7 linked regions of the Homo sapiens genome follow. The protein of the gene in region 6 interacts with the protein of the main gene of each other region in a pairwise test. Each region holds a gene or a part of one and is shown on either strand. Other genes may lie near its edges. The genes, in order: NARF, PTPRJ, CKMT1B, DLC1, PDGFRL, SFRP4 and PTPN12.

Evidence for each region.
Region 1: the proteins of SFRP4 (region 6) and NARF interact in a two-hybrid assay, tested with the Homo sapiens proteins (one large-scale study listed by BioGRID and IntAct).
Region 2: the proteins of SFRP4 (region 6) and PTPRJ interact in a two-hybrid assay, tested with the Homo sapiens proteins (one large-scale study listed by BioGRID and IntAct).
Region 3: the proteins of SFRP4 (region 6) and CKMT1B interact in a two-hybrid assay, tested with the Homo sapiens proteins (one large-scale study listed by BioGRID).
Region 4: the proteins of SFRP4 (region 6) and DLC1 interact in a two-hybrid assay, tested with the Homo sapiens proteins (one large-scale study listed by BioGRID and IntAct).
Region 5: the proteins of SFRP4 (region 6) and PDGFRL interact in a two-hybrid assay, tested with the Homo sapiens proteins (one large-scale study listed by BioGRID and IntAct).
Region 7: the proteins of SFRP4 (region 6) and PTPN12 interact in a two-hybrid assay, tested with the Homo sapiens proteins (one large-scale study listed by BioGRID and IntAct).

The regions. Positions count from the first base shown.
Region 1 is NC_000017.11:82,464,823-82,469,149, forward strand, and holds part of NARF (nuclear prelamin A recognition factor), read left to right. Parts: intron 1-3,941; coding exon 3,942-4,074; intron 4,075-4,327.
Region 2 is NC_000011.10:48,133,743-48,138,069, forward strand, and holds part of PTPRJ (receptor-type tyrosine-protein phosphatase eta isoform 1 precursor), read left to right. Parts: intron 1-2,296; coding exon 2,297-2,554; intron 2,555-3,260; coding exon 3,261-3,539; intron 3,540-4,327. UniProt on the Homo sapiens protein: Tyrosine phosphatase which dephosphorylates or contributes to the dephosphorylation of CTNND1, FLT3, PDGFRB, MET, KDR, LYN, SRC, MAPK1, MAPK3, EGFR, TJP1, OCLN, PIK3R1 and PIK3R2. Plays a role in cell adhesion, migration, proliferation and differentiation.
Region 3 is NC_000015.10:43,596,200-43,599,906, reverse strand, and holds the end of CKMT1B (creatine kinase U-type, mitochondrial precursor), read right to left. Parts: intron 3,701-3,707; coding exon 3,615-3,700; intron 3,500-3,614; coding exon 3,376-3,499; intron 2,532-3,375; exon of another isoform or gene 1,715-2,531; coding exon 1,580-1,714; intron 1,081-1,579; coding exon 955-1,080; intron 751-954; coding exon 634-750; 3' UTR 501-633; downstream 1-500. Other genes in the region: STRC (stereocilin precursor), read left to right, coding at 147-235. UniProt on the Homo sapiens protein: Reversibly catalyzes the transfer of phosphate between ATP and various phosphogens (e.g. creatine phosphate).
Region 4 is NC_000008.11:13,084,300-13,088,626, reverse strand, and holds part of DLC1 (rho GTPase-activating protein 7), read left to right. Parts: coding exon 1-140; intron 141-2,163; coding exon 2,164-2,337; intron 2,338-2,695; coding exon 2,696-2,816; 3' UTR 2,817-4,327. UniProt on the Homo sapiens protein: Functions as a GTPase-activating protein for the small GTPases RHOA, RHOB, RHOC and CDC42, terminating their downstream signaling.
Region 5 is NC_000008.11:17,621,846-17,626,172, reverse strand, and holds part of PDGFRL (platelet-derived growth factor receptor-like protein precursor), read right to left. Parts: intron 1-4,327.
Region 6 is NC_000007.14:37,909,660-37,913,986, forward strand, and holds part of SFRP4 (secreted frizzled-related protein 4 precursor), read right to left. Parts: intron 2,659-4,327; coding exon 2,460-2,658; intron 22-2,459; coding exon 1-21.
Region 7 is NC_000007.14:77,596,080-77,600,406, reverse strand, and holds part of PTPN12 (tyrosine-protein phosphatase non-receptor type 12), read right to left. Parts: intron 2,566-4,327; coding exon 2,506-2,565; intron 1-2,505. UniProt on the Homo sapiens protein: Dephosphorylates a range of proteins, and thereby regulates cellular signaling cascades. Dephosphorylates cellular tyrosine kinases, such as ERBB2 and PTK2B/PYK2, and thereby regulates signaling via ERBB2 and PTK2B/PYK2.

The sequences.
Region 1 (4,327 bases), on a different chromosome or scaffold from region 6:
GCTTGGGGCAAGGCAGAGACACTCCAAGGAAGTAAAAATTCCCAAAGCTCCTTCCTTCAGCTCATCCCTGCAGACCTCCTATACAGAACGAGAGGTGCCACTTGTCTTTCCGTGAGACAGGTTGTATTAGTCCATTCTCACATTGCTACAAAGAACTACGTGACACTGGCTAATTTATAAAGCAGAGAGGTTTAATTGACTCACAGTTCCACAGGATCTACAGGAGACATGGCTGGGGAGGCCTCAGGGAACAACCATGGCGGAAGGGTGAAGGGGAAGCAAGCATGTCTTCACGTGGCAGCAGGAGAGAGCAAGTAAAGGGGGAGGTGCTGCACCCTTGTAAACAACCAGATCTTGTGAGGACTCACTCACTATCATGAGAAGAGCAAGTGGGAGATCCGCCCCCATGACCCAGTCACCTCCTGCCAGGCCCAGCCTTCAGTTTCACATGAGATTTGGGTGGGGACGCAGAGCCAAACCATATCACAGGTGAAAGAGAAAGAGACAAAGGCAGATGAGGCTGAAAAGCACTTCTTGGTTTCCATGCTGTCACCTCCACGGGAAGCACCGGCATCCTACCCTGCCCAGGGTGTAGGAGCCCATTCACAGTAGGTAGTGTGCTAGAGCAAGGTAGGGGCCTCAAGAAACACTGACTGGCACAAGTGGGTGGCATAGGGGACAGCCAAGGAGCCTTCTCAGCGTTTGCCATTCACCCCCATGGCTTCTGGACAAGTCATCCAGCAGCAATTAGATCACAATATTTTTCTTTGTGAGACAGGGCCTCACCCAGGCTGGAGTGCAGTGGAGAGAGTCTCAGTGGGGAGACTCTGGTGATCCTCCCACCTCTGGAGGCTCCCTGTAGCCTCCAGAGCAGCTGGGACTACAGACGCGTGCTACCACACCTGCCTAATTTTTGTATTGTTTGTAGAGACAGGGTTTTGCCATGTTGCCCAGGCTGGTCCTGAACTCCTGTGCTCAAGCGATCCTCCAGCCTCAGCCTCCCAAAGTGTTAGGATTATAGGCATCAGCCACCACCCATGACCTAGATCACAATTGCAGATAGAGACACATGTCCTCTGTGTTGCCAGCATTAGTTGTGTCTGGGTGTACCCTGACTTATATGCACTTGCACGGGAACTCCGTTAGCAAGCAGCAGGCTGCCTGGATAGGATGGTCTGAACCAGGAGATGCCCCCCACCCATCAGCCAGGTTCGCCATGCATACCCGTCCCCACCTGCTCACCCTTGGCCTTTCAGGGAACAGAATGGCTTCAGCCATTTTGTTACGTTGAACAGACTTAGTGGATACAGCTTTGCAGACTACTAGAGACTTAATTCTGTGGTGTCAACGGTTTTTGCAAAAACCCTTGAAAGTGTCTGTGTCACTTTATGCTTCCCTAAGTGATAGGGGCAAACAGCTGTGTGCAGCCATCCTGGTCACATTCAATATCAAATTCAGTTTTTTCCCCCCTGATACATAGAGAATTGTATCTCATTTGCATTTTCTTGCTTATTTAGAGAAGTTGGTTACCCTAGATGATGTTTATTGACAGTTTATATTTTATCTTATGCTGCTTGTCCAGTCTACAACTTATATTTTAGTACGGTGTGCGATGTGAATACATTCTTCTTCCTTTTTTTTCTTTTCTGAGATGGAGTCTCTCACTGTCTCTCAGGCTGGGGTGCAGTGTCGTGATCTCAGCTTATTGCAACCTCTCCTTCCTGGGTTCAAGCAATTCTCCTACCTCAGCCTCTCAAGTAGCTAGAGTTACAGGCAGGCACCACCATGCCCAGCTAATTTTTGCATTTTTAGTAGAGATGGGGTTTCATCATGTTGGCCAGGCTGGTCTCGAACTCCTGACCTCAAGTGATGTGCTCGCCTCGGCCTCCCAAAGTGCTGGGATTACAGACGTGAGCCACCACACCCGGCCAGATACATTCTTTTCTATTTGAAAAAATCAAATTGTTCCAGCATCTTCTGTTCTTCCCCTGTTGACCTGAAATATTATCCTACCTCTCTTATATATTGATAGATGTGCATCCATTTGTTTCTTTTTTTTCGGCCTTCACCATGTTGGCCAGGCTGGTCTTGAATTCCTGGCTTCAAGTGATCCACCTGCCTTGGCCTCCCAAAGTGCTGGGATTACGGGCATAAGCCACCGTACCTGGCCTTCTTTTTTTTTTTTTTCCCCATTACTTCCACCCCACCCTTGTACTGCGTGTCTATTTCTTGACCCTTTTTTGAGATGGAGTCTCACTCTGTCGCCCAGGCTTGAGTGCAGTGGCACGATCTTGGCTAACTGCGACCTCCACCTCCTGGGTTCAAGCAGTTTTCCTGCCTCAGCCCCCTGAGTATCTGGGATTACAGGTGCACACCACCATGTCTGGCTAGCTTTTGTATTTTTAGTAGAGATGGGGTTTCTCCCTTTTGGCCAGGCTGGTCTCGAGCTCCTGACCTCAGGCTATCCACCAGCCCCGGCCTCCCAAAGTGCTGGGATTATAGGCATGAGCCACCACGCCTGGCCCTTGACTCTTATATCTGAACCTGTCTTCTATTGCGCTGCCAACATCTAGTTTATGCTAGTTTATGCAGTATTTTTTTAGAACAGTTTGTAGATGAGGCTTACTCACAAAACATCTTAGGCCTGGTAACTTTTTTTTTATTTTTTTATTTTTTATTTTTGGAGATGGAGTCTCACTCTGTCGCCCAGGCTGGAGTGCAGTGGAGCAATCTCAGCTCACTGCAACCTCCATTTCACTTCAACCTCCACCTCCCGGGTTCAAGCGATTCTTCTGCCTCAGCCTCCCGAGTAGCTGGGATTACAGGCACATGCCACCACACCCAGCTAATTTTTGTATTTTTAGTAGAGATGGGTTTCGCCATGTTGGCCAGGCTGATCTTGAACTCCTGACCTCAAATGATCCGCCTGCCTCAGCCTCCCACAGTTCTGGGATTACAGGTATGAGCCACCATGCCCAGCCGGGCTGATGACTTTTAAGAGGCATCTCTGGATACCATTTTAGTGTGTCTGTTTTTTTTATTGTTGTGTAGTAATTTCACTTATTCATTGGCCAATGTTGTAATTTGTATTTTCCCTTTAAAATTATTTATTTTTTCCAGATATTCACATTTACTGATATAACATTGTTCTTGAAATTGACAAAGTCTTTTAGATCTGTAGTCTTGTCTCTTTTAAGACAGAGTATTGGCCAGGCTAGGTGGCTCACACCTGTAATCCCAGCACTTTGGGAGGCCGAGGCAGGTGGATCACAAGGTCAGGAGTTTGAGACCAGGCTGCCCAATATGGCAAAACCCCGTCTCTACCAAAAAGACAAAAAATTAGCTGGGTGTAGTGGCAGGTCCCTATAATCCCAGCTACTTGGGAGGCTGAGGCAGGAGAACCACTTGAACCTGGGAGGCAGAAGTTGCAGCGAGCTGAGATCGCGCCACTGTACTGTAGCCTGGGCAACAAGGGTGAAACTCTGTTTTTTTTTTTTTTTTACTGTAGCCTGGGCAACAAGGGTGAAACTCTTTTTTTTTTGAGACAGAGTATTACTCTGTCACTCAGGCTAGAGCGCAGTGGCTATGGCTGTTCCTAAGTGTGATTATAGCGCTCTGCAGTCTCAAACTCCTGGCCTCAAGTGATCCTCCTGTTTCAGCCTCCTGTGTAGCTGGAACTGTAGGCATGCACCACTGAAGCCAGCTCATGTTTCATTTTTTAAATCCTGACTTTTAAAAAAATATTTACCAGAAGCCCAAACCTCACCATAATCCTGATTTTTTTTCTCCTTTTTCTTAATTATGTTTGCCAGTGTTTGTCTATTTTATTAGTCTTTGCATAGACCATCTATTAACGTTGTTCTGAATTTCTCATTAAGGTGTGTAACTTTTACTCCTTGTGTAATCAGCAGATACCTAACATTCTCTATTTCTCCTTCTAGAAATGTGATACCTCAAAGCACAAAGTGCTGGTAGTGTCTGTGTGTCCTCAATCTTTGCCTTATTTTGCTGCTAAATTCAACCTCAGTGTAACTGATGCATCCAGAAGACTCTGTGGTTTCCTCAAAAGTCTTGGTGAGTCATCTTTTGATAAATTGGGAATGTATAACTTGAGTTTATAAGCGCCCTTTTTAATCTCTAAAGTTCGTTTTTCAAGGACGCAGGGTAGATAAGCAACTTCCAAAAGAGTCTCTTGGAACGTAAAAAGACCATGTCCCGTGTGTCATGAAACCCAGCCTCTGATCGATGGTAGACGAGTGTCACTTTTCTCCTTTGCTGTGCACAGACAGGTGTTTTGTTACACAGTGGGAGCTGACCCCTCTGGGAC
Region 2 (4,327 bases), on a different chromosome or scaffold from region 6:
GTTCATCCATACAACAAAATACTATTCAGCCATAAGAAAGAAAGAAATTCTGATTTATGGTACAACATGGATGGATCTTGAGGACATTATGCTAAGTGAAGCCAGACACAGAAGGACAAATACTGGATGATTCCACTTACATGAGTACCTAGATTAGGCAACTTAATATTCTACAGAAATTAGAATAGAGGTTACCAGGGGCTGTTCAGAGGAGGGAGTGGGCATTATTGTTTAATGGCTACAGTTTATGCTGGGGATAATGACAGTGTTTTGGGTACAGGTAGTGGTGATAGTTACACAACATTGTGAATATTGATGATACCGAATTGTACACTGACAAATGGTTAAGATGATAAATATTATGGTATGTATGTTTTACCACAATAAAAATGAAAAGGAACAAATATCTCTATTTTTCTAACCCAACTGAATTCCTTTTCTCTCTGTGTCCACAGTCATACATTTTGCTTGTATACTGTAATTATTATACAAATACTTTTATTTTGTATTTGAATTTCTTTTTACTCAGTCTATACCACAACTTTCCCCTATAGTTAGCATGGCCTTCATATTTTTAGTGGCTAAAGAGTATTTCATCATGCAGCCAGATCACAGTGCCCACAGCCCTCCCCATGTTATTGAATATTTAGGTTGTTTCTAGGTTTTTATGTTTATAGACAAAGGCTGCCTTTCATGGGCTTTTGTCTGTGGAATCCCTTTGACATCAGGAATCTGCTGGTAGGAAACAAAGGCTCCTCCCAGTGGCTTCTCTGTAAGGAGAATCCACTTAAAATTAAAAAAAAAATTAATTTTGGAGTAGATAGTACGTAAACATGGCACAATTTTTTTTGTTTTTTGGACAAGGTGTTTGCAGTGAAAGCATTTCCCTTTTTTGTCCCCTACCTGCCCATTTCCTCTCCCTGGAGGTGACGTTTGTTGCCAGGTAAAGAGAGACAGGGTTGAAAGCCGCGGTAGAAAATAGGCCCAGCCTCCGCGGTTACTTCCGGGCCTCTATGTAGGCATCCCTGGTGCAGGTGGCTGAGTGGGCAGCGGGAGATGATCGGAGGATGGGCTCCTGTGGGAGATTCCATTTCTGACTCTGCTCTGAAGGTGCAGGGTGTGCCTGTTTTCTTCCCTTCCTCATCCGTCCTCAAATGCTGCAACTTAGTAAAGGTCAGCTCTCCATTTCAGTTTTCCTCTTTGGTATGTAAGGCTGTGTCACGGGAAGATGTTTCCTTCTGAGTGACTGATTTAAAAAACACAACAAAACAAAAAAACCTCTTTATTGAGATATAATATACATACCGAAAAGGGATGTATCCTCAGCACATAGCTTCATGAACTTTTACAAACTGAACACATCTTGTTACCAGCACCCATATAAAAAAACTGAATGTGATTTCCACTTCAGATGACCCCTTGAAGGGCTTTTTTTTTTTTTTTTTTTTTGAGATGGAGTTTCGCTCTTGTTGCCCAGGCTGGAGTGCGATGGCGCGATCTTGGCTCACTGCAACCTCTGCCTTCCGGGTTCAAGTGATTCTCCTGCCTCAGCCTCCCAAGTAGCTGGGACTACAGGCATGCACCACCACGCCCGGCTAATTTTGTACTTTTTTTGATAGAGACGGGGTTTCTCCATGCTGGTCAGGCTGGTCTCAAACTCCCGACTTCAGGTGATCCGCCTGCCTTGGCTGCCCAAAGTGCTGGGATTACAGGCGTGATCCACCGCGCCTGGCCTTTTTTTTTTTTTTTTTTTTTTTGAGACAGAGCCTCATTCTGTCGCCCAGGCTGGAGTGCAGTGGTGTGATATCGGCTCACTGCAACCTCTGCCTTCTGGGTTCAAGCGACTCTTGTGCCCCAGCCTCCCGAGTAGCTGGGATTACAGGCGTGTACCACCACACCCAACTAATTTTTGTATTTTTAGTAGAGATGGGTTTTCACCATGTTGGCCAGGCTAGTCTCGAACCTCTGACCTCAAGTGATCCATCTCGGCTTCCCAAAATGTTGGGATTACAGGCATGAGCCATTGCACCCAGCCTAAGGGCTCATTTTTAAGACAACAACAAAAAACTGGAGAACTGGTAAGATAAACTGGGAAGTTCATGTGCGTCACAGAAGAGCTGAAATTCTTGAGAGCACTGAGTGTGTGCATTTCTCAGCTCGATTTTGGAGTGTGCCTTTTGTGAACTCATTAGAAAGCGTAATGGCAAAAGAGCAGGTCCTCTCGACAGCACTTGGAGAGGAAGCTGGGCGTCATGATAGTAACAGTTTTCCCTTCTCCTTCCTTTCTTCTGAGCAGTTCCCAGTGCAGTGTTTGACATCCACGTGGTCTACGTCACCACCACGGAGATGTGGCTGGACTGGAAGAGCCCTGACGGTGCTTCCGAGTATGTCTACCATTTAGTCATAGAGTCCAAGCATGGCTCTAACCACACAAGCACGTATGACAAAGCGATTACTCTCCAGGGCCTGATTCCGGGCACCTTATATAACATCACCATCTCTCCAGAAGTGGACCACGTCTGGGGGGACCCCAACTCCACTGCACAGTACACACGTAAGTCTCTTAGGATGCCCTTCTAAGGAACAGCCTCTCTAACTGTCTCTTGGAGGAGGCACTGGTTAAATGATGGCCAGTGTGCTTCTGGGATCCAGGTTGACTCTGAAACTGCTGAAGTTGAAAACATTGGTCTCAGCAATGGTTCTGCTGTCACCATGGGGCACTGTTCTTCAAGCTATGTGAACTTAGAATTGTCATTAGAAGGAAGAAATGATTCCTTGGGAATGGTGACTGAAATGGTTCTAGTCATTCCTTGAGAATACAGAGTAGAGAAGGGTCACCTTGTCATGTTGGTATTGGAAGATACTGCCCAGATGAGGAGCTTCGCCTGCAACAGTTAGGGAGGTGTTTTGCGAATATTTGAATTAAATACATGGTAAAGATGTTAGTTTGTAATATGTTTTTAGTATATTTTTCTCCATCTATTAGATTTAAAAAACAGATTAGAAATTAAATGTTAAAAATATATTTGAAATAAACTTGAAGTATTAAAAGAAGCCTAAATTAAACTTCTTTTGAGACTTAATCTGTATAATTATTTTCTTGATGTGTTTTTGGGAAGTTTTCCATCTTTTGAGCCAGCAAATACTAGTTTTATTCATTCTTTCTAAAACGAGCCAGGCTATTTTTGGATATAGTAAATAGTCCTGGAATTCTACTTAATCTGTGCTTTTACATGAATTGCCTTTTTTTTAAAATCAAGGGCCCAGCAATGTGTCCAACATTGATGTAAGTACCAACACCACAGCAGCAACTTTAAGTTGGCAGAACTTTGATGACGCCTCTCCCACGTACTCCTACTGCCTTCTTATTGAGAAGGCTGGAAATTCCAGCAACGCAACACAAGTAGTCACGGACATTGGAATTACTGACGCTACAGTCACTGAATTAATACCTGGCTCATCATACACAGTGGAGATCTTTGCACAAGTAGGGGATGGGATCAAGTCACTGGAACCTGGCCGGAAGTCATTCTGTACAGGTGAGTGTAGCCCCAACTGCCTCTTGGACTCCTCCCTGAGTGGTGCTGACCTTGCAGGTCAGTCCTCCCAAGTCTGTAGTTTGTCTGGTTTTGTGTGATGTGCAGTGATGGACATTGAGCTTTCCGAGGCATCCTGTTAGCTTATCGGTGCTGTCTCGATGCCCTCATCATTTCTGCATTCAATAAATATTTATTGAGCATATACCATATGCCAGTCAAGTCCTTGCCTTCTTGGAACTTTTCGAAGGAGGAAGTGGGATGTTTACCTAGAGTGCTCAGGAAAGGCCTCAATGACAAGGTGACTTTTGAGCAAAGATCTGAATGAAGGGAAGGAGCCAGCCATGTGGATATCAGGGCATGAGAACATTACAGGCAGAGGCCTGTGCAGAGGGGCCTGTGCAGCATCACCACTGTATCTGGAGGCTGGAGGAAGAGCAGGAGGCAAGGGTGGGAGGAGTGGACCCGCAGGAACAGGAGGATATAGGTGGGAGGTGAGGCCTGAGTGGGGCTGAGCCAGGATGTGGATGATATCTGGCATTGGTTTGTCTTTTGTGCTGGAGAAGATGAAAAGTTTATTGAAATGATGCCCAGCCTTTGCATCCTTCTTGATCCTCACCTATCTCACAACTGAAAATGTGTGATAAAGAGAAGAGCCCTCTGTGTAATTGAGGATGCTTTCAGGGCAGCCCAGGAAAGGCTTTGCAGACAGTGGTGGGCACTTCTGCTCACAGTGCTGACTGTGGCACCTTTATCACTCAGCACCCGTGCACTACTCATTTTCTGCCCTT
Region 3 (3,707 bases), on a different chromosome or scaffold from region 6:
CCCTAATTTGGTGCTGTCTGGCTCTTAGAGTGCACCCAGGGAGATCCCTGGAGTGAAGGAGTCTACAGGCAGAGCGCTAATTTCCAAGTATCAATGCTCCTGGAGAGCTGAGTTGTGATATTACTCCCATTCCCTGTCTATTATAGGTCGAAGTACAGCCTGGGGCCTCCAGGACTGGTCACGACCTTCCTGGTCCCTGGTATTGACTATCAGCTTCCTTGGCCACCTGCTATGAGCCTGTCTCTACAGTAGAAGGAGATTGTGGGGAGAGAAATCTTAAGTCATAATGAATAAAGTGCAAACAGAAGTGCATCCTGATTATTTTCAGAAGCTGATGAGGAATATGGGTAAAATGTTAATGCTTTCCACCCACCTGAGAATCAGTGTTCCTGGGTTGCCATATCTGGAGTCTCTTTCCATCATAAATAATCCCACTGCCTCTTTTCATTTCCTGAAGGCTGCTCCCTCCTCACCCCACCATTAGAAGTAACACAGACAGCTGCAGCATAGCAAGGAGTCTTTACTAGGATGGAGGCAGGGGATGCGGGGGCAGGTCCAGAGCAAGTAGAATGGGCCATCATTAGAATGAGCAGAACTCCTGGGAATCTTGAGTCATCAGCTGGCGATGGGGAGTTAATGCTTGGTGTGGATGACAGGTGTGGGGATGCGGATATCCTGGCCTCTCTCCAGACGCCGTTCACAATCAATCAAATAGTTTACTCCATCGATGACCAGTTGCACCAGCTCCACCTAAGGGACACTAATCTTTGATCTGCTTCCTACAGTCTGAGTTTTTCTTTATCACTGACTGACTTGCCTGCTCATTTCCAATTGCCTCCCCACTCAACCTGAATTTCATTTCAGATTATCTTACATCCCGGAGGCTCACTCACTGCCATATTTCGGCCCTCGCAGACCTATACCTCTCCTTGTCCTAATCCCTTAGGATCTCACCTCTGATTTGCCTAGTCGGTCCAAATTAGAAATATCAAAGACACCGCCTGTAGCAGCAGTGTCCACTCCTCCAGTACCACGTTTTTGGAGTCTTAGGTTCTCCAGGATCTTTGGGAAGCGGCTATCCTAGAGAGGAGATAGGGATTGGGAGCAGGGTCAATAGAGGCAGAGACTAGTCCTACCTGAAAGAGCCCTGAACCTGCTCAGAGCTCTGTCTCCTGAACTTTTTTTTTCCTTTTTTCTTTTTTCTTTTTTAATTTTTTTTAGACAGGGTCTCTCTCTGTCACCCAGGCTGGAGTGATCACAGCTCACTGAAGCCTCGACTTCCCAGGCTTAAGTGATCCTCTCACCTCAGCCTCCACTACACCCAGCTAACTTTTGTATTTGTAGTAGAGATGGGGTTTCACCAGGTTGCCCAGGCTGGTCTTGAACTCCTGGGCTCAAGTAATCTGCCTGCCTTGGCCTCCCAAGTGTTGGGATTAGAGGCATGAGCCACTGTGCCTGGCCTGTCCTCTGACCCTTTAGCCACAACATGTTTGGCTCCTTTCCAAAGGGTCCACTCCCTCCCCATCCACAACCCACCCTTCCTTACTCACACCCCTCTGTAACCCCACAACTCCTTTACTTTGCTTAGCAGGGGCAGTTTGATGTGCACTCCTGCCCGAAGTCCAGTGCCCAGGTTAGATGGACAGGTCAAGATGTATCCCAAACGCTCATTCCACATGAACTCCCAGCCACGTTCTTGGATAAGTCTCTCCACCTGAGTCCACAAAGGTTTTGTTAACGAAAAATCAGGGATATTTCATTAACCCTGGACCCTCCCTTAGCTAGACCCACAAGAACACTAGAAATATGTCTAGAACAGAAACTTGGCTGTGAATGAATGACATTGGTCTTTTTTTAAATGAAAAAGGTTTGTTATTGTTTTCATGCATGCATGATGCAAAATTATGATGTGCATAATAATGAGATTGTGAAAAAATATCTTATGTGGAAGAAGAAAACTCGAAGGAGTGGTGTATTAAGGATGATCTAGGGAAATGAACAGAGGTGGTAAACTGAACTGAGAGATGACTGATTATTCAATGAGGTCTGCATGCATCGATTATCTTTGCTTTGCTAATGAGCCTAGAGCTTAGAAGGGTCCCTTCAGACAGAAGATGAAGGTGTAAGCTTTGCCAGGAAGAGGTAAGATAACATTCTGTTAGCTGTGAACGGAGCACCTGTGTGAATGCAGAGAAAGATGAAAACAGAGCAGAAAAGCCAGATTCATAGGAATAGGGGGCGGGGGGAAGGCGTTTGGCTTCACTTAACCATGTAGTCATGAAGATGACTATTAGAGTTCAAGAGACAAGGGATCTAGCAGAATGATGGTCACAAAGACCACAACCCAACATGAGTAAAGGGATCCTCTTTATAGTTCAGAAGGAACCATGCCATAGGGGATATCTTACATGCTGAACATGGGGGGAAACTCTTCCATCCAGAATAATATTGCAGCTAACACTTTAACACTTATTAAGCACTTACTGTGGACCAAGTACTTTACCTGTATTTCACTTAATCCCCACAACAACCTAAAATGTAGAAAATCTCATTATCCCAATTTTACAGATGAGGAAACTGAGGCATATAATTTAAAGGTACTTCCCTACCCACTCATAGTCAGAATATGTTATCTATTACTTGCCAAAAATAGTAGAAACTTCTCAGAATCTAAAAGAGGAGCTCTTTTTCTTTGCAAACCTAAAATAGAACTGTATGTTTGAGAACATACAGTAAGAATTGAATTGAGTTTATGGGGATTTCTAATGTAGACTTGAATACGGAGACCCAATCCATGTAGGATTGATGATTCAGTTCAACCTCTCATCTAGAGCCACATATTCTAGAACTTGAACCATTCTATCCTCCACCTTCCCCAGTCTCTCTCCGAACTCTCAACTTAAAGCCTAGACCCGATACTTTAACAAGAATGATAGAATCCAGAGTCAAGGCCTACCTTGTCTCAGAACTGGGTGGTTATATTAGAGTCATGAACACAGCAACCTCTCCCCGCCAACATCAATCTAAGCTCGAATGTTTTCCTTATCTGCACACCTCACCATCCCACTGCACACATCCCAGGCACTGACGTGCCATCTCATTTATTCCTTCTTTGCACTCTCTGTCAACAGCCTTGTTCACTTCCTAAGATTCCTGACACTCTTTCTTTTCCTAATCTTAGTGTGACCACATGTCCTGGTTTTCCCAGTATGGTCCCAGCTGGTTTACACCTTTAGTCCTGGAGTGAGTCCTAGATAGTCCTTTTTACTATAAGACATGTCCTGGGTTGGTTGGTAAATTACATAATCTATTTATGCTACTCTTTGGTTTTCCTTATGTCCTCCCACCTAGCTCCCCTACATAGTCTTCTCTAACCTCTTTGAGGCCTCGGCAGAATCTTTCAAACACTCTCTTCATGTTACCACCCTTCTCCATGGAGATCACCCGTGTATGATCCTCCTCATTCACCCAGATCAGGAAGCTCTTCTCATTGTTGTGCCTGAGGGCCGGAGAGGGACAGTGATCAAGAGGCAAGGCAAGAATTGGGAGAGATAGAGGGAAAAAAAGCATTTATGAGGGCATGAAGACAAAAGAGGTAATGAGCAGCTTCATACCAAATTCCACGAGCATCTGGCCAGTCTCGAGCCATTCCTGCTGCAGTCAGCAACGGGGACACAGGCTTATCAAACAGAAAGTGGTCCTGGGAA
Region 4 (4,327 bases), on a different chromosome or scaffold from region 6:
CTACTTAAAGAACAGCACCTCTGGGATGTAGACCTGTTGGATTCAAAAGTGATCGAAATTCTGGACAGCCAAACTGAAATTTACCAGTATGTCCAAAACAGTATGGCACCTCATCCTGCTCGAGACTACGTTGTTTTAAGGTGAGCGCTTCCCAGTTGTTTTTTTGTGACAAGGATGACTCCATATATGAACCAAGCCTATATGTCACTGATCTTACAAGATGGTATAATTATTTAAAGTAGAGGCCGGGCATATGGTGGCTCACACCTGTAATCCCAGCACTCTGGGAGGCCAAGGTGGGAGGATCACTTGAGGCCAGCAGTTCAAGACCAGCCTGGGTAATATAGCAAGACCCTATCTCTACAAAAAAATTTTAAAAATCAGCTAGATGTTGTGGTGCATGCCTGTAGTCCTAGCTACTCGGGAGGCCGAGGCAGGAGGATCCCTTGAGCCAGGAGTTTGAGGCCGCAGTGAGCTGTGAGCATGCCACTGTACCGCAGCCTGGGCAACAGAGCAAGACCTTATTTCTGAATAAACAAAACAAAACATATGCTTCCAGAAAAGTAGTGAACACCTTCAAATATGGAAAACAGATCTACATTTATTCTAGCAGTGTGTTCCTCGCTGAGAATGGTCTGAACTCTTTGGTAACTGAGCTCAGAAAGAGAGGCCCCTTCCAATGAATATGCTCATTCGTAGCAGATTTTTGCCCCTTTTAGGATAGATTTTCTTGTCAGAAACAGCTAGTGAATGAATAAGCCAGGAAATAACATTTGAGTCCCAAGGGAGATGTGGTTAAGGCTGATGTATGTGTAATTCATAAATTCTCTGGAGATATTACTGAAAGAAGAATTCCAAAAATCTTTGTGGAAATGTCACATTGGAAGTCCAGACCTTTTCAAACAGCCAGCGCTCCTTTAGGTGTCTGTGTTCCAAGACATTTGTGAAATAGAAAAATGGTTTTAAGCTACACTTCAAATGGGCTCTTTTTTCAAAGAGGAGACTGTCTGAGCACATAAACCCTCTGTAACAACGGCTCTGTACAGAGTTCCTCATTCAGCAGTCCTTGTACAGTGTCTTCGTGCATGTAATGCTGCTCTAACAGAATCTCACAGACCAGGCAATTATAATGAACAGATATTTATTTGGCTCATGGTTCTAAAGGCTGGGAAGTTCAAGATCAAGTAGTTGCATCTGGTTAGTTGGTTGGTTGTTTGATTGATTTGGGGACATGGTTTCATTCTGTCACCAAGGCTAGGGTGCAGTGGCACACTCATGGCTGCTGAAGCCTTCACCTCCCAGGCTCAAGCAATCCTCCCCCCTCAGCCTCCCAAGTAGTTGGGACTGCAGGCATGTGCCATCACACCTGGCTAATTTTTTTGTTTCTGGTAGAGACATGGTGTCACCATATTGTCCAGGCTGGTCTCAAAACTCCTGGGCTCAAGCGATCCTCCTACCTCAACCTCCCAAAGCGCCGGGATTACAGGCATGGGCCACCCACCATGCCTAATGAGGGTCTTTTTGCTGTGTCATCCCATAGTGGAAGGGCAAAGAGAGGGCAAGGGAGAGCAAAAGAGCAAATGTGCAGCCTCAAGCCATTTTTATTTTTATATTTATTTATTTTGAGATGGGGGGGTATCACTTTGTTGCCCAAGTTTGAGTACAGTGGCATGATTACAGCTTAAGCAATCCTACCATCTCAGCCCCCGGAGTAGCTGAGACTACAGGAGCACACCACCATGCCCGGCTAATATTTTTTATTTTTAGTAGAGATGAGGTATCACTATGTTGTCCAGGCTGGTCTTGAACTCCTGAGCTCAAGCAGTCCTCCCTCCCCAGCTTCCCAAAGTGCTGGGATTACAGGCGTGAGCCATGGAACCCAGCCTTAAGCTCTTTTATAATTGGCATTAATCCAGCTCCCATTAGGCCCCACCTCCCAACACTGTTGTATTGGGCATTCACTTTCCATCACATGCTTTTTGGGGAACACATGTACACCATAGCAAGTAGTTTAGAGGATGCCATTTACCTAGGCCTGGGTCACACAGCATGGCCACTGAGCCTGACCCGTCACCACACTGCAAATAGTGAAGAGTGAAGCACGATTTTAAACTTGGCTTCTATGAAATTCCATCATTTCTGCCTCTGGTTTTGTCTCTACAGAACCTGGAGGACTAATTTACCCAAAGGAGCCTGTGCCCTTTTACTAACCTCTGTGGATCACGATCGCGCACCTGTGGTGGGTGTGAGGGTTAATGTGCTCTTGTCCAGGTATTTGATTGAACCCTGTGGGCCAGGAAAATCCAAACTCACCTACATGTGCAGAGTTGACTTAAGGTATGTTCTGATTCTGATTTTTTTATATGGTGAGGGTCATGAAGGAAATTCTGACTTTTTGTCTAATGCAAAGAATGCCTTAAACAAACACGTCATTTTTTCTTGGTGACTTCATGAAGAATGGTGTTTAGAAAGTAGCATTTCATGTTTGTTGGTCTTTCAGCGACCACTTCGTAATTTGGTTCCCTTAGAAAATGTGGTTCTAAAGCAAAGCAAATATGGTAGCTCGGCCATGAATTCAAAGGCATGGGAAATGATAGATTTTATGCATTTGAACTAGCAAACAGATGTTTCTCATTTTATTTCCATGCTTTCTAACTTAAATAATTCATCAGCTTTTCTTTCTTTTCTCTGATAGGGGCCACATGCCAGAATGGTACACAAAATCTTTTGGACATTTGTGTGCAGCTGAAGTTGTAAAGATCCGGGATTCCTTCAGTAACCAGAACACTGAAACCAAAGACACCAAATCTAGGTGATCACTGAAGCAACGCAACCGCTTCCACCACCATGGTGTTTGTTTCTAGAACTTTTGCCAGTCCTTGAAGAATGGGTTCTGTGTCTAATCCTGAAACAAAGAAAACTACAAGCTGGAGTGTAGGAATTGACTATAGCAATTTGATACATTTTTAAAGCTGCTTCCTGTTTGTTGAGGGTCTGTATTCATAGACCTTGACTGGAATATGTAAGACTGTGCAAAAAAAAAAAAAAAATTTATGTGTATTCTTATTCAAATTGCTTCTGAGAAGCAAAACTCTTTAAATACATTATGGAAGATAATGAAGATACTTCATTCTCTTGTGATATCAGTGTATGCGTACCTGTGTCGCTTTATTTGCAGTGTGTTGAGGGACTGGTGTATCCACTGGAATAGTTGGTACTCTTGGATGTGTTTTCTCACCAAGATGAGCAAAGAAAGGTTTGCACAGAGGAGTGTGAATGTGTGTTTGTTGCTGGCTGAATGGCAATAGATGTCTAAGGTGGATTCAGTGTCTGGCACACTGAGACACCTCCAAGAAGGAGATTGATGCATCAGGTTCAGTTTAACCTGGAATATCTGACTACCCCTGAATCCACCCAGAAAGGGGGCCCAACACCCTTGTCCATTTATGGGTATTTTTTTTCGAAGTTATTAAGCATATTCCTTTTCCACGAACCTCTTCTGTACTTTGATTGTAATAGGTTGGCTCTTACACCCATTCCAAATGCAGTTTATTTTTAGACCCGATTGCAAATAGTGATGTAGTTTTAACCAGTATGGATTAGTTCAGGGATGAACTGCTCCCTCTAGCCTTACTGGCTCTGATCCACAGGGTTTTGTTTTGTTTTGTTTTGTTTTTTGTTTAAGTCGAGATATAAAAACTGAACACGATAACACTTACTCTTAAATCAAGCATCAACACTTTTTCCCTGTTAGAATTCTTTGCATTTTTGTGTTTGTAACAGAAACGCCTTAAGACACTATGTTTGGGAATATAGGAAACTATGTGTGTCCCAAGGAAATCCCTGTAAATTTAACTCACCTACAAAAGGCTTTTTCCCCGCCTTTGGTTGTTAACGGCATTCCTGAAAGCCACATGTGTTTATTCATTGGGCTTGTTCTTATCAGCAAATAGGTTTTCTGGTTTTATGACTTTTTGTCTTATTTTATTTTTCCTACATTTCTTTTTTTTTTTTTTTCCTTTAGAATGCCCTGGAAATATATTTAAGTGGTAATGAAAAATAGTAATCATAGTAAAACGCAACAAGAAGAAAACCAACCCAAACCAGTGAAGTTTTTTAGAACCTTTAGAAGGGTGGTCTTTATTCAGGTTTTACTGTAATGGTAAGGATTGACTCAAGAGACAGTATTAGTAAATTTATTGTGTATGGATCAAAAGTGAATAATGTATGAATGAGAGCTGTAAGAAGGATTTTTATTTTGTTATAATTTAGTTACCATTTTCAGTGTTATTTCAAAGGTTCTTTGAAGAATTTTGGGGCAGGGCAT
Region 5 (4,327 bases), on a different chromosome or scaffold from region 6:
TATTGAAGATGTTTTCTTAGCAACAACACTTTAGGATTTTATGATTGCAAGATTTAGAGGCAACTTTTGTTTTAAAAGTGTGTAGAATAATCTGAAGCGATAAGCAGAGCCATTAGTCGAATAAGTGAACCGTGTGAATTTAAGAACACAAAAATATCTTCTTGTATTTTTATTTTTTGAGACAGGGTCTCACGCTGTTGCCCAGGCTGGAGTGCAGTGGCACCATCATGACTTACTGCAGTTTCAACCTCCAGGGCTCAAATGATCCTCCCACCTCAGCCTCCTGAGTAGCTGGGACTACAGGCACGTGCCACCATGCCTGTCTAATTTTTTATTTTTTAGTTTTTCTAGAGTCAGGGTCTCACTATGTTGCCCAGGCTGGTCTCAAACTCCTGGACTCAAGCAGTCCTCCTGCCTTGGCCTCCCAAAGTGCTGAGATTACAGGCATGAGCCAATGTTCCCAGCCTTACTTCTTATACTATAATATATACTTTACTTCTTATACTATAATACATACTTTGAAATGTGACCAAACCAGTTGCTTTAAAAATATATTTGCAATCCGTAGCTTCCATCAACAATAACAAAGTGTTGAAGTTTGTTTTAATAATTATAGATTACACATGTCCCCTGCAAATGTATTTATATCCACTTATCTAGAAGACAAATGTTTTACTTAAAGAAAACTAAACACATGGGATTTTAGATTAAAAAAAAAAACTCGACCAGGTGCAGTGGCTCACGCCTGTAATCCCGGCACTTTGGGAGGCCAAGGCAGGCGGATCATGAGGTCAGGAGACCGAGACCCTCCTGGACAACATGGTGAAACCCCATCTCTGCTAAAAATACAAAGATTCGTTGGGCACTGTGGCGCATGCCTGTAATCCCAGCTACTCGGGAGGCTGAGGCAGGAGAATCGCTCGAACCGGGGAGTCGGAGGTTGCAGTGAGCTGAGATGGTGCCACTGCACTCCAATCTGGCAACAGAGGGAGACTCCATCTCAAAAAAGACAAAAAAACAAAAAAATGCGGGGGGGGGAGGGATAGCTTTAGGAGATATACCTAATGCTAAATGACGAGTTAATGGGTGCAGCACACCAGCATGGCACATGTATACATATGTAACTAACCTGCACATTGTGCACATGTACCCTAAAACTTAAAGTATAATAATAATAAATAAAAATAAAAATAAAAAAATAAATAAATGCAAGTTAACAAGCTATAAACTAAATCCAAATTACAACAAATTCAGTATTTTGAGACAGTCTCACTCCGTCACCCAGGCTGGAATGCAGTGGTGCCATCTCGGCTCACTGCAACTTTGACTCGCTGCCTCCTGGGTGTAAGCAATTCTTGTGCCTCAGCCTCCCGAGTAGCTGGAATTACAGGCGTGTGCCACCATGCCCACCTAATTTTTGCATTTTAGTACAGAGGGAGTTTCGCCATGTTGGTTAGGCTGGTCTTGAACTCCTGACCTCAAGTGATCCGCCTGCCTCGGCTTCCCAAAGTGCTAGGGGATTATAGGCATGAGCCACTGCACCCAGCCAGGAAAGTACTTATTAATGTGGTTTTCCTACGTATAAAAATTAGAGCCTCAGCCTTTTACTATGAGAAAGCTCTGCTGCTGGTAATGTTCTCATCCTTGATCTGGGTGGGAGTTACATGTGCCTGTTTGCTTAAGGATAATTTATTGAGCTGTATTCTGAGAATTTGAATGTTTTTCTTTACATATGTTATACTACAATAAGAAGTGAAAGAGAAGCAGGGAAAACCTTCCAAGATCCTCCTGGATCAAGATGAAAGAGGAAATACATACGGCAATTATTTAATCACAAACTGCACACTAACAACAGTCAGTCCCCCAAAAGAAGCTTCAGTGTTTTTAATCAAACTCTAGGAAACATACAAACATAATGAATGACAAACATTTCTCCACATGGGTAGCCAGGAAACACATGTTCTGAAAGAATCCTGAGCCAGCAGTGAGAACCTCAGCTTCTGTAACAGCCCATCTTGGTTTCTCAAAGCCATCCATGCTTGAAAAGACAAATTGCCAAACCCTATAGTAAAAATCCAACTGGACTCCTAGCTTAGTGTTGACAAATAAGAAAAAATAAATGATGTATAACACATTAGGTCAAATGTGTTACAGCATTTATTTTTTTTGATCAAAGTTTCTTGATAGTTGGAATGAATATATTTTAGCTTTTCTTTGGTTCCCAAAATTAGTTCAGTTAAAAAAAAAACAAAAAGGTTCCGCCTCCAAAACTCAAAGAGAGCCCGTATTTTTTTTTTTTGAGGTAAAGTCTTGCTCTGTCGCCCAGGTTGGAGTGCAGTGGCGCAATCTTGACTCACTGCAACCACCAACTCCGAGATTCAGGCGATCCTCCTGCTTCAGCCTCCTGAGCAGCTGGGAGCACAACTGTGCACCACCACGCCCAGCTAACTTTTGTATTTTTGTAGAGATGGGATTTCTCCATGTTGGCCAGGCTGTTCTCGAACTCCTGACCTCAGGTGATCCGCCCGCCGTGGCCTCCCAAAGTGCTGGATTACAGGTATGAGCTACCATGCCTGGCCAAGAGCCCATAATATTAATAGGATATTCTGCCCAAGCTAAGCCTGCAGTTCAAAACCTCGACCAATACTTTGGGAAGACACAACAGTGCTAATCTTGGCAAAGAATCTTCCTTCTGCAACTTGAAATGTGGAATCAGTCATTGACTTGAATAACAGACTTTTATTCATCTTAGTTGGTTGCTTTTTCCACTGTTGCTTCACAGCATGGTATAATACAAAGGGCACATTTACAATCTTGTGTAGCGAGTTCCAAAATGAAGATCCAAAGAGATTGCCTATGAACAATTATTAGCAATTCTCCTGACAACACCAGTTATGCTAGCTAGAATCTGGCTATCAGTCCATCCTTCACCTTGTCCTACAAAAGGTTCAAGGCAGTAAAAACACTGGATCCTGGGTCAGAAAAACAGGTTTGGCTCCTTATTGTGCCACTACAGGTCCTGGAACATTGAGGCTCAGCATGAGCATTAGTACTTCTAGTATTTTGGAGATAATAAAATAGCTTTTGCTTATTTCCCAGGGATGTTGTGGAATGAAACTGATAGAGGCAGGAGGCAGAGAACTCTCCTAAGCAGATACGGGAATGTCCTTAGAGAACCTCTGACCTACCAAGGTCATTGTGCACAGGGGTCTTGCCTAAACATACCCCCAGTGAAAAATTCCATCCCTTAACACACATGCAGTAAGGGAAATAAATCAACGTGGAGTGACTCAGATTAAGGGCCTGCAGGTACACTGAAAGGATGGGGTGGAGCCGCCAGGAATTCACGCCTCTTACAAACAGGGAACCCAGCCCTACCGAGGGAACATAGAAGCCCTTGTATTCAATTGTGTGGAGAGCAACCTGCAACCTGCTTTCAGGACCCCTCTTTTTGCTGAGAGCTTTCCTTTTCGCATAATAAATTCTACTCCACGCACTCTTTTAAGTGTCTGTGTGCCTAAGTTTTCCTGGCATGAGACAAGAACTTGGATCTCTGAACTAAGGAGTAAAAAGTCTGCATCAAAATGAGATACATGTGCTTCCAGAACTGCAGCATACCCTACTAATGCATCTCCTTGCCAGAGAGGAGCTATTTGGGCAGGAAAGGACAAATACATAAGATTGTACTAAAACATTCTTTAATGGTCAGGGCATAACATCCTTTGGGTCATAGGCCTATGTCTAGGTCTAGGCCTATGTCTAGGTCTACGTCTGAAAGGTAGGTGGATTCAAGGCATGGAGAAATTTCATGAAAGTCCCTGCCCAGGCACTAACAAAGGATTCTGGTTTCACCTGAAATGTCTTGGACGACAATAGGACGAGGGTGGCTTTGTAAGATTCCTGAAAGCTCTTACTGACTTCTGAACCTTGCTGGAGAACTTCATCCCCTAAACTTCAGAACTTAGAGAACATTACAGAAGAAAGAGGCTGAGCAGTTATTCTGCACACGTGTTTCTCAAAATGCAAGCTCCATCTTCCAGAAACATACTTTGCACTGCAGAGAAGAGTTCTCCACTCTGACCTGAACATTTTGAGGCAGTCCACTGAGGCTTAGGGACAGGGACTGGAGACACAACAGCCACAATCTTTGGGAATCTTGCCCCCGAAATCTCAGCTCATAGTATTCACAAGAACAAACAGGGCTGAGCAGAATGGCTCATGCCTGTAACTACAGCAATTTGGGAGACCGAAGCAGGAGGATAGCTTGAGTTCAGGAGTTCGAGACCAGCCTGGGCAACACAGTGAGACCTCACTTCTACCGAAAAAT
Region 6 (4,327 bases):
CAATTTTCAAGAAGCATCATCCTGAAAAAAAATTATCTTAGTAAACAGATTTTTATTACAAAAGTAAACAGCTAAAAATACAGAAATTGTAAAAAAATTATTCAATAATCCTTTACCCCATAATCCACACATCCACCATTTATATTTTATTGGTGTTTCCTTTCATTCCTCCTTGTAACAATATTAATTATATTTATTAGATCACATTGTGTATTGAGATGATCTGCTGATCTGCAAATTTCCTTTTGTCATTATATGATCTAAATTTTCTGATGTAATTAGAGTAATTTAAAAATATAATGTTAATAATATAATACTATGAATATGGATATCCATAATATATCTATCCATTTCTTTATTGCTGAATTCCCCTTTTGCTTAGCTATGATTACCAGTATTGCATTGAATAACCCTGTATACAGTAGTGTGCACTGGCTTATTATTTTCTTAGGACAGATTTTTAAAATAGAATAACTGAGTTAAAGGGTATGTATTTTTTAAAAAGATTTTCAATGCATAGTGCCAAGTTGTTTTCAAAATGGTTGCACTTTCATCCAATTCACTAACATTAAGAATTAGGTGAAAATGGAATCTTATTTTTATTTGGATTTAGAATTAAGGAGATAATTTTTTAAATGTTTACTTACTATCTGTATTCTATTTGTATTACTATTTGAACTTCTCTATATAAATTTCTGTATATATATTTCTATATCATGATCTCAATGTTTAAATATTAATTTTATGAACTCTTTAGTAAGATTACTATTTTTTCATATCTTTTCAAGTATGTTTCTCAATTTTTATTTGCCTTTCTATCATTATTTGTGATTTTTATATGTATAATATTATGCAGTCAGATATGTGTATTGATATTTTTCCTTGTAATTTCTTACATTACTTTTATGTTTACAAATTACTTTTCTTTTCAGATATAACATATTTAGTCACTAATTTTGTCCTTTTTTTAAAGTTCTTAGAATATTTATCTATTTAATCCATTTGAAAGTTATTGTAAAGCACAGTATAAAGTGAAAAGAATGTATTTTTTTACAAATAGGAATATTTTCAACATTTACCAAATAATACATTCATTTTCTATTGATGTGCCATATTTCCTTCATAATGAAAAGCTGTATTTTATGCATTAAAACCTGTTTCAAGAGTTTTTCCTCTGTTTCATTTATCTTTACGTCTACTATTGCATCACATGGTTTTAACAAGTGTAACTTTACACCAGGTTTGCGGGTCTCATAAGGCAGATTTCCTCTCTTATTTTCAGAATTGTCTTTACATACCCTTACCAATTTATTAGAATCATTTGTGAGGACATAAATCCCAATTATCCAAAACTATTTTTACTGGGATGGATTATAATCCATTCATCTCTCCAGATAGAATGTAATGACCAACAACCTGGTATCCCCAACTGGATCTCTAGCACTGCAGCAGATGCAAACACCTTGGTAGAGATGAGTCCAGAATCACTGATTGCTTCTTTAGGGAGACAAGATATACGCAGAATCTGGCTTTAAAACCAAGAACTCAAGGTGATATCCATGTTGTAAGGAGGGCACCCAAGTACTGATAGAATACAGAAAAGTGGAGTTAGTTCCCAAAGATGTTTTTGGTTTCTTTTCAGAGGAATAGTCTTAGGTTATATCTAGAAGAAACAGATGAGCATTAACAGCAGAGAATGGGAGGGATGCCTTGTTATGTAAAACTGAGTGATTTTGCTGGAGAAGTATACTGCATCAACTTATGGGGCCCAACATGGAGGCTGGGCTCAAGAGTTTGACTTTATATTACAAGTAATGTACCAATATCCAAAAAAAATAAGAAAGAAAGAGAGGCCAGGGAGACAAATACACACAGCTAGAATTTGTGTGTATGTGTATGAGTGTGTGTGAAGCATATATTTATTTGTTTATACATTGCCTTGTGATGATTTGAATTGAGAATCACATATCCGATTCAGAAATCACCTTAAAGTGTGTGTGTGTGCATGCGTGTTTGTTTGCAATACTCTATCAAATATTATGAAGTGTTTATATGGAAAATATGTGGAACTATAGTCTCAACTCCCTACTTACTTGATCTGTAAGCTATTAAAGTGGCCTTAAAAGTTCAGTATGTGCCACTCTAAAATTGTTTGAATGATTTGAAAAGAATTGTTCTTCCTTAAAATAATTGACTTGCTGTAAATTTTGAAGTCACTTAATGAATTTTGAAACTGATTTTTAAAGACTCTATTCAAATACTCATATTTTGATTTTTCCTTCATTCTATGAAGAATTAATTGATAGAATATATGCTATTCAAACAGAGGCATCTGTTAAACTAATTTTTTTAAAAAGACTTTGGCATATTTTTGTTATATTTTTAAACCATGACTGCTAACTGAGATTGAGGTCTTCCTAACAGTGTGCATACAGTTCCTTCTGCCTCTTTGTGCCTACCTTGAGCGCCACTCGTAACACATGATGAGAACATCTTGATGGGGCAGGATGTGTGGACACTGGCAAGAAGAATTTGTAATGAGCGGGACTTGAGTTCGAGGGATGGGTGATGAGGACTTGAAGATCTCTTTTACATCCACCACCGTTGTGACCTCATTGCAGCCACTCCTCTGCACAGCTTTTATTTTGGCATGAATAACTGCAATTTAAAAATAGATAAAAGTGTTGTTGAAGGTTTTGGGGAAAAACTAGGGATGGTGTATTCATGCCAACTTCTGAGCCTCTCTTAAAGAATCACTCCTGTAATTATGGTTATGTCCAAGTGGCCTGAGTGCAGGCAAACAGCCCACACAGTCATATGCTAAATGGATGGTGTCCTATATTGTCAACATTGTCTTAAATGTTCCGGGGCATACTGCAAGATAGGAAAGCAAGCTGAAAAGCAGGTTTTAGTCTTTCTCTGCCTTTAGGTCAGTAAAAAATTCACAGAAACATATATTTGTATTCTTCCTTGTGGTGATTTGAAGTGGGGATCATATATATTCAGATCAGAAGTCATCTTAAGGTTTGCATTTCTTCAATCACTCATCTGATGCTTGAGCTTCTTCTGTTTTACAGAGATAGTCATTAGTCATAACATTTTTGAACTGGAGGGAGTCTCTGAGGACTACTGTTCTCAATCTTTTAACTTCACAGACTGACAAAGTAGACCCATGGTGAGCAGAGATAGAACTGTTATTACAGATGGCTGTTAATGTCACTGTCTCTGACCAAGTTTTAAATGCTGGTTTCTGTGGTCTCTTGCTATTACTGCCTCCCGTAGAGTTGTAATCAGCCTAATATGGCTCTGTCTTGGATTCCATTTCAGGAAGCCAGTTTATGAAGACACCAAAGGACTTGAATACAAAATGGTTTCTTCATCAAGGTCGTTCAAAGGCCATAACACCCCAGAGAATGACATGACAGTGAAACTCAGATTAATATCTCAGGCTGGATCTTGGCAGAGGAGGGACTAAGTAAATCAGATGAGGATGGTAGCTACATAGAGCAGGCTTTAAGAAAAAAAGCTACAGGAAAAGATAAACTACTTTTTGTTGTTGCTGAATTACCCCCATTGGCTAAATATGATTCTTAAATCTGATAGTTTTGTAACAGCTTATTTTTTTTCAGATTTCTACATTTCTGTGATCCTCCTACTTTCATGTCTGATATGTATCCTAAAGTTTCTTACTGATATAAAATTTCAATCTGCAAGATGAAAACTAAGTCAGCAAACAAAATAAGCATTTTCCCTAAAACCACTTTATGTTATTTCAGCAGAAATGATTTAAGACATGCAATGAAATATAAAGTAGGCAGCCCAAACAGACATTTTTAAAATGTCTGCCTTTTACATTTCTTTTTGAATTGAAAAAGAACATATGTTAATTAAATTTACTTTCAGATGACAATTGTGAAATTAAAATTACTTAAAACATTTCAAATTTCATGACTGACTTATTCATGGAAGAAAATGCTGAATGGTTCTTTCAAGTAAGAGAGAGGAGGGCATTTAAACTAGTTCGATAGTGTAACCATAGGATTTTGTGATTAACATTTTTTTCACAATTTATTTAAGATGTTAAATATTTGTAGCTAGTCACAAGTAAAAGGATATGCAGGCAGATCTTAATTGTCTGGGCCTATGGGCCTTAATTCTCTGACTCTCAGATAATCAGATCCATGGATCATTCTCTCATTCTTCCTGCAGCAGTAAAACCTCAGGAAGAGAACAGGTGGGGTGTGCCATCAGGGCTGATAAGCACTTCTCACCAAGACAAGGAGGATCAAGATGTCAAATTTTCAATCTGATGCATGTAATTTTTATC
Region 7 (4,327 bases), about 40 Mb from region 6:
ATAAAATAACTTGCCCAAACTTTCCTAAGAAGTGACAAGTGTGGGCTCTAAACCAGGCAGTTCTACTTCCAGAGCATGTACTGTAAACATAACACTATATATACTATTTAACTAATCTACACTATTAAATGGATGAGCAATATACCGTAAGCACCATGTTAGAGTAGGTTAGAGTAGTATTCATTGTAATCAGAAGACTAACAGAACATTAAACTGAAAAAGAATGGAGAGATGAATTTGTCCAATGCCAAACTCACTAGTCTTCTTACAGATTAGTGGTTCTCAATATACGGTCTGGGTACCCCCTCCCCTCAACCCTTTTGAGGGAGTCTATGAGCTTTAAATAATTCTCAGAATAATACTAAAATGTTACGTGCCTTATTCTTTAACAGCCAATACAATATATGCTTATGTATTCATGTTTTTTAAAAATTTCTCAGTTTTAATTTCAAATATAGTATATACTGAAAGATACAACCCCCAGAAACAAAAACTTTGGGATCCTCAATAACTTTGAAGAATGTAAAGGAGTACTGATGTCAAATGTTTTGAGAATGGTTATTGCAGGTGTTTAACAGAAAGAGCAATACTCGGAATCTAAGCAAACCATACTCAAATTCCTACTTTGGCCATTTCCTAAATAACTTCAGGTAAGCTATTTAACTTCTTAAAGCTTCTGTATCTTCATCTATGTGCAACAGACGTAACAGTATCTGGATATGATGCAGTTAGCAGAATTAAGATGCCTGATCTACCACAGAAATTCATTAAGGTACTTATTATTATTACCGTAGATTAAAAAATTAGCAACCAGTCCAGATTCAGTGGCTCACATCTGTAATCCCAACACTTTGGGTGGCCAATGCAAAAGGCAAGATCACTCAAGGCCAGGAATTTGACAGCAGCCTGAGCAACATGGCAAGACTTCATCTCTATAAACTATAAAAAATTTAGCTGGGTTTGGTGGCTCATCCCTATAGTCTCAGATACTAGGAAGGTGGAGATGGGAGGACTGCTTGAGCTCAGGAGTTTGAGTCCAGCCTGGGCAATATATAGTGAGACCCTGTTGCCAAAAAAAAAAAAAAAAAAGTCGGGGCGCTGTGGGGGGTTTCAACTAAAAACAATATATATCTAAATGAAGACTTAGCTTTGATAGTGACTTTTCTTTAACAAATTGTAAACCAGTAAAACAGGGTAATAATTATATAAACAATGCAATAACCTGCTTACTGCAATAGAATAAAAATATTTGCTGCAAAGAAGGTATAACTATTCCAAATTTAACAAATTTAGGGTATGTTATAATTAATATTACTTTTTATGTAATGTGATAAGCATAAATGTCAAGACTAAATATTACACTCTCATTTCATCTTCGTAACTAAAAAATTACCAAATTTCATTAATTATGTTAAATAACATAGTATACTATTTATATAGCTTGTTTTATTTTTTTAGTAGCTAAAAGTTGATTAGTTTGCAAAGACAAAAACTAACTTCACATGCTTTAAAAATAAAAATTGCTGTTACTTTTTTTACTTACAAAAAACTATAAAGCAGATATAAAGCAAAATAATAATATATATTATATATATTATTTGCATTTTGCAGATATAAAGCAAAATAATTTTCTAGCAAACCCATTTTACCAAATAAAACATTTAGGTAGTAGTATTATATTTTCTATTTTTAAAACATTTATTTTATTTTTTATTTTATTTTTTGAGACAGAGTCTTGCTCTGTTGCCCAGGCTAGAGTGCAGTGGCACCATCTCGGCTTATTGCAACCTCTGTCTCCCAGGCTCAAGCAATTCAAGTGCCTCAGCCTCCTGAGTAGCTGGGATTATAGGTGTGCACCACCATGCCCAGCTAATTTTAGTATTTTTTAGTAGAGATGGGGCTTCGCCGTGTTGGCCAGGCTGGTCTTGAACTCCTGGCCTCAAGTGACCAACCCACCTCAGCCACCCAAAGTGTTGGGGATTACAGGAGTGAGCCACCATACCTGGCCTCAACTTTTATTTTGGATTAAGGGGTACATGTGCAGCTTACATGGGTGTATTGTATAATGCTGAGGTCTGGAATACAAATGATCCTTACCAAAGGAGTGAGCATACTACCCAATAGGTGGTTTTTCAGCCCACGCTCCCCTCCCTCTCTATGTCTTCTCTTTGAAAACTATTCTCTATTCTCAAAACCATTTTTGAGAGTCTCCCTCTGTTGCCCAGGCTGGAGTGCAGTGGCACAATCATGGCTCACTGCAGCCTCAACCTCCCGGGCTCAGCCTTCTGAGTGAGTGGGACTATGGGCACATGCCACCATGCCCGGCTAACTTTTTTCTTTTTGTAGACACAAGATCTCACTATGTTGCCCAGGCTAGTCTTGAACCCCTGGACTCAAGTCACCCTCCCACTTCAGCCTCCCAAAGTGTTGGGATTACAGGCATGAGCCACTGCACCCAGCCTGAAAACTATTCTTACAGATAGTCTATAAATGGTAAGTACCTACATTTTGAAATTCAAGTAAGAGTGTCCTGATGAAGTAGTCTGTTCTTGCTTGTTCATCCTCCTAAATAAAGAGAAACATTTCTAAGTCAGTGAAAACGTTAAAACAAAAAGACACATCAAAACAAATAAAATACTTGTATCAAAGTCCACAATATAAAATTAATCTTTAAAATTCCAGATGTACCTGATAATTATAAAAAAATTCTAAAAGTCATCAAACATTTGAAATGTTTGAAGTGATAGACATGCTAATTATCCTGATTTAGTCACTCCACATTTTAAATTACACATACATGTACCAAAATCACATGTACCCCATTAATAAGTATAGATACTATGTGTCAATTAAAAATAATAAAAGGAAAAAAAGAGCTAGTAAGCCATGAAAAGACATGGATGAACCCTAAATGCACATTACTAAGTGAAATAAGCCAATCTGAAAAGGCTACATACTGTATGATTCAAACTATATGACTTCTGAGCTGGGAGCAGTGGCTCATGCCTGTAATTCCAGCACTTCAGGAGGCTGAGGCAGGTGGATCACTTGAGGTCAGGAGTTCGAGACCAGCCTGGCCAACATGGTAAAACCCCATCTCTACGAAAATACAAAACTTAGCTGTGTGTGGTGGCGCGCACCTGTAATCCCAGCTACTCAGGAGGTTGAGGCAGTAGAATTGCTTGAACCCAGGAGGCAGAGGTTATAGTGAGCTGAGATAGTGCCACCGCACTCCAGCCTGGGCGACAGAGCAAGACTCCGTCTCAAAACAAACAAACAAACAAACAAAAACAAACTATATGACTTCTGAAAAAGGCAAAACTATGGAGACAGTAAAAATAATGACTACCTAGGGTTGGGAAGGGGGTGAGATGAATGAATAGGTGGAGCACAGGACTTTTAGAGCAATGACACTATTCTGTATGATACCACAATGGTGGATACACGTCATCATATATTTCTTCAAACCCACAGAATGTATAGCACCAAGAATGAACCCTAATGTAAAATGTGAACTCTTGGTGATAATGACTTGTCAATGTAGGTTTGTGAATTGTAACAAAGAGACTGCTCTGGTAGGGAATGTTGATAATGAGGGCTACATGTGTGGGGACAGGGTGTATATAAGAAATCTCTGTACCTTCCTCTCAATTTTGCTGTAAACCTAAAACTGCTCTAAAAAAAATAGTCTTGAAAAAGTTAGGCAGTGGCTCACACCTGTAATGCCAGTAGTTTGAGAGGCTGAGGTGGACGGATCGCTTTAGCCTAGGGGTTCAAGACCAGCCTGAACAATATAGCAGAACCCTGTCTCTACAAAAAAATACAAAAACTAGCTGGACATTGAGGCGTAAGCCTGTGCTCTCAGCTACTTGGGAGGCTGAGGTAGGTGGATCACTAAGCCCAGCAGTGAGGCCAAGGCTATATAGTGAGCTGCGATCACGTCGCTGCATTCCAGTCTGGGTGACACAGTGAGACCCTGTCTCAAAACAAAAAACACTAAAAAAAAAATTTTTTTAAAAACCTTAAAATGAAGTCTCCTATCAGATAAAGTCTCCTAACAGATAGACCCAAACAATATGTACAAATAAGAGAAGTGAATTTGGGAATCAAGTTACCTACTAAACTAAGAAACTTGAAGAAAAAAAATTCATTAAAAAAATTTGTATAGACAGTAAAGAAAAAAACATCAATTTGCTTTTGTAAGTTTTACTTATACCTAAAAAAAAGTGTCTAAACGAATTACTTAAGCATCTACCACCCAATAAAATATCTGCAAAGTAGTAACCACCCCCAGAATCATGTAAATATACATAGAATGTCATTCCTC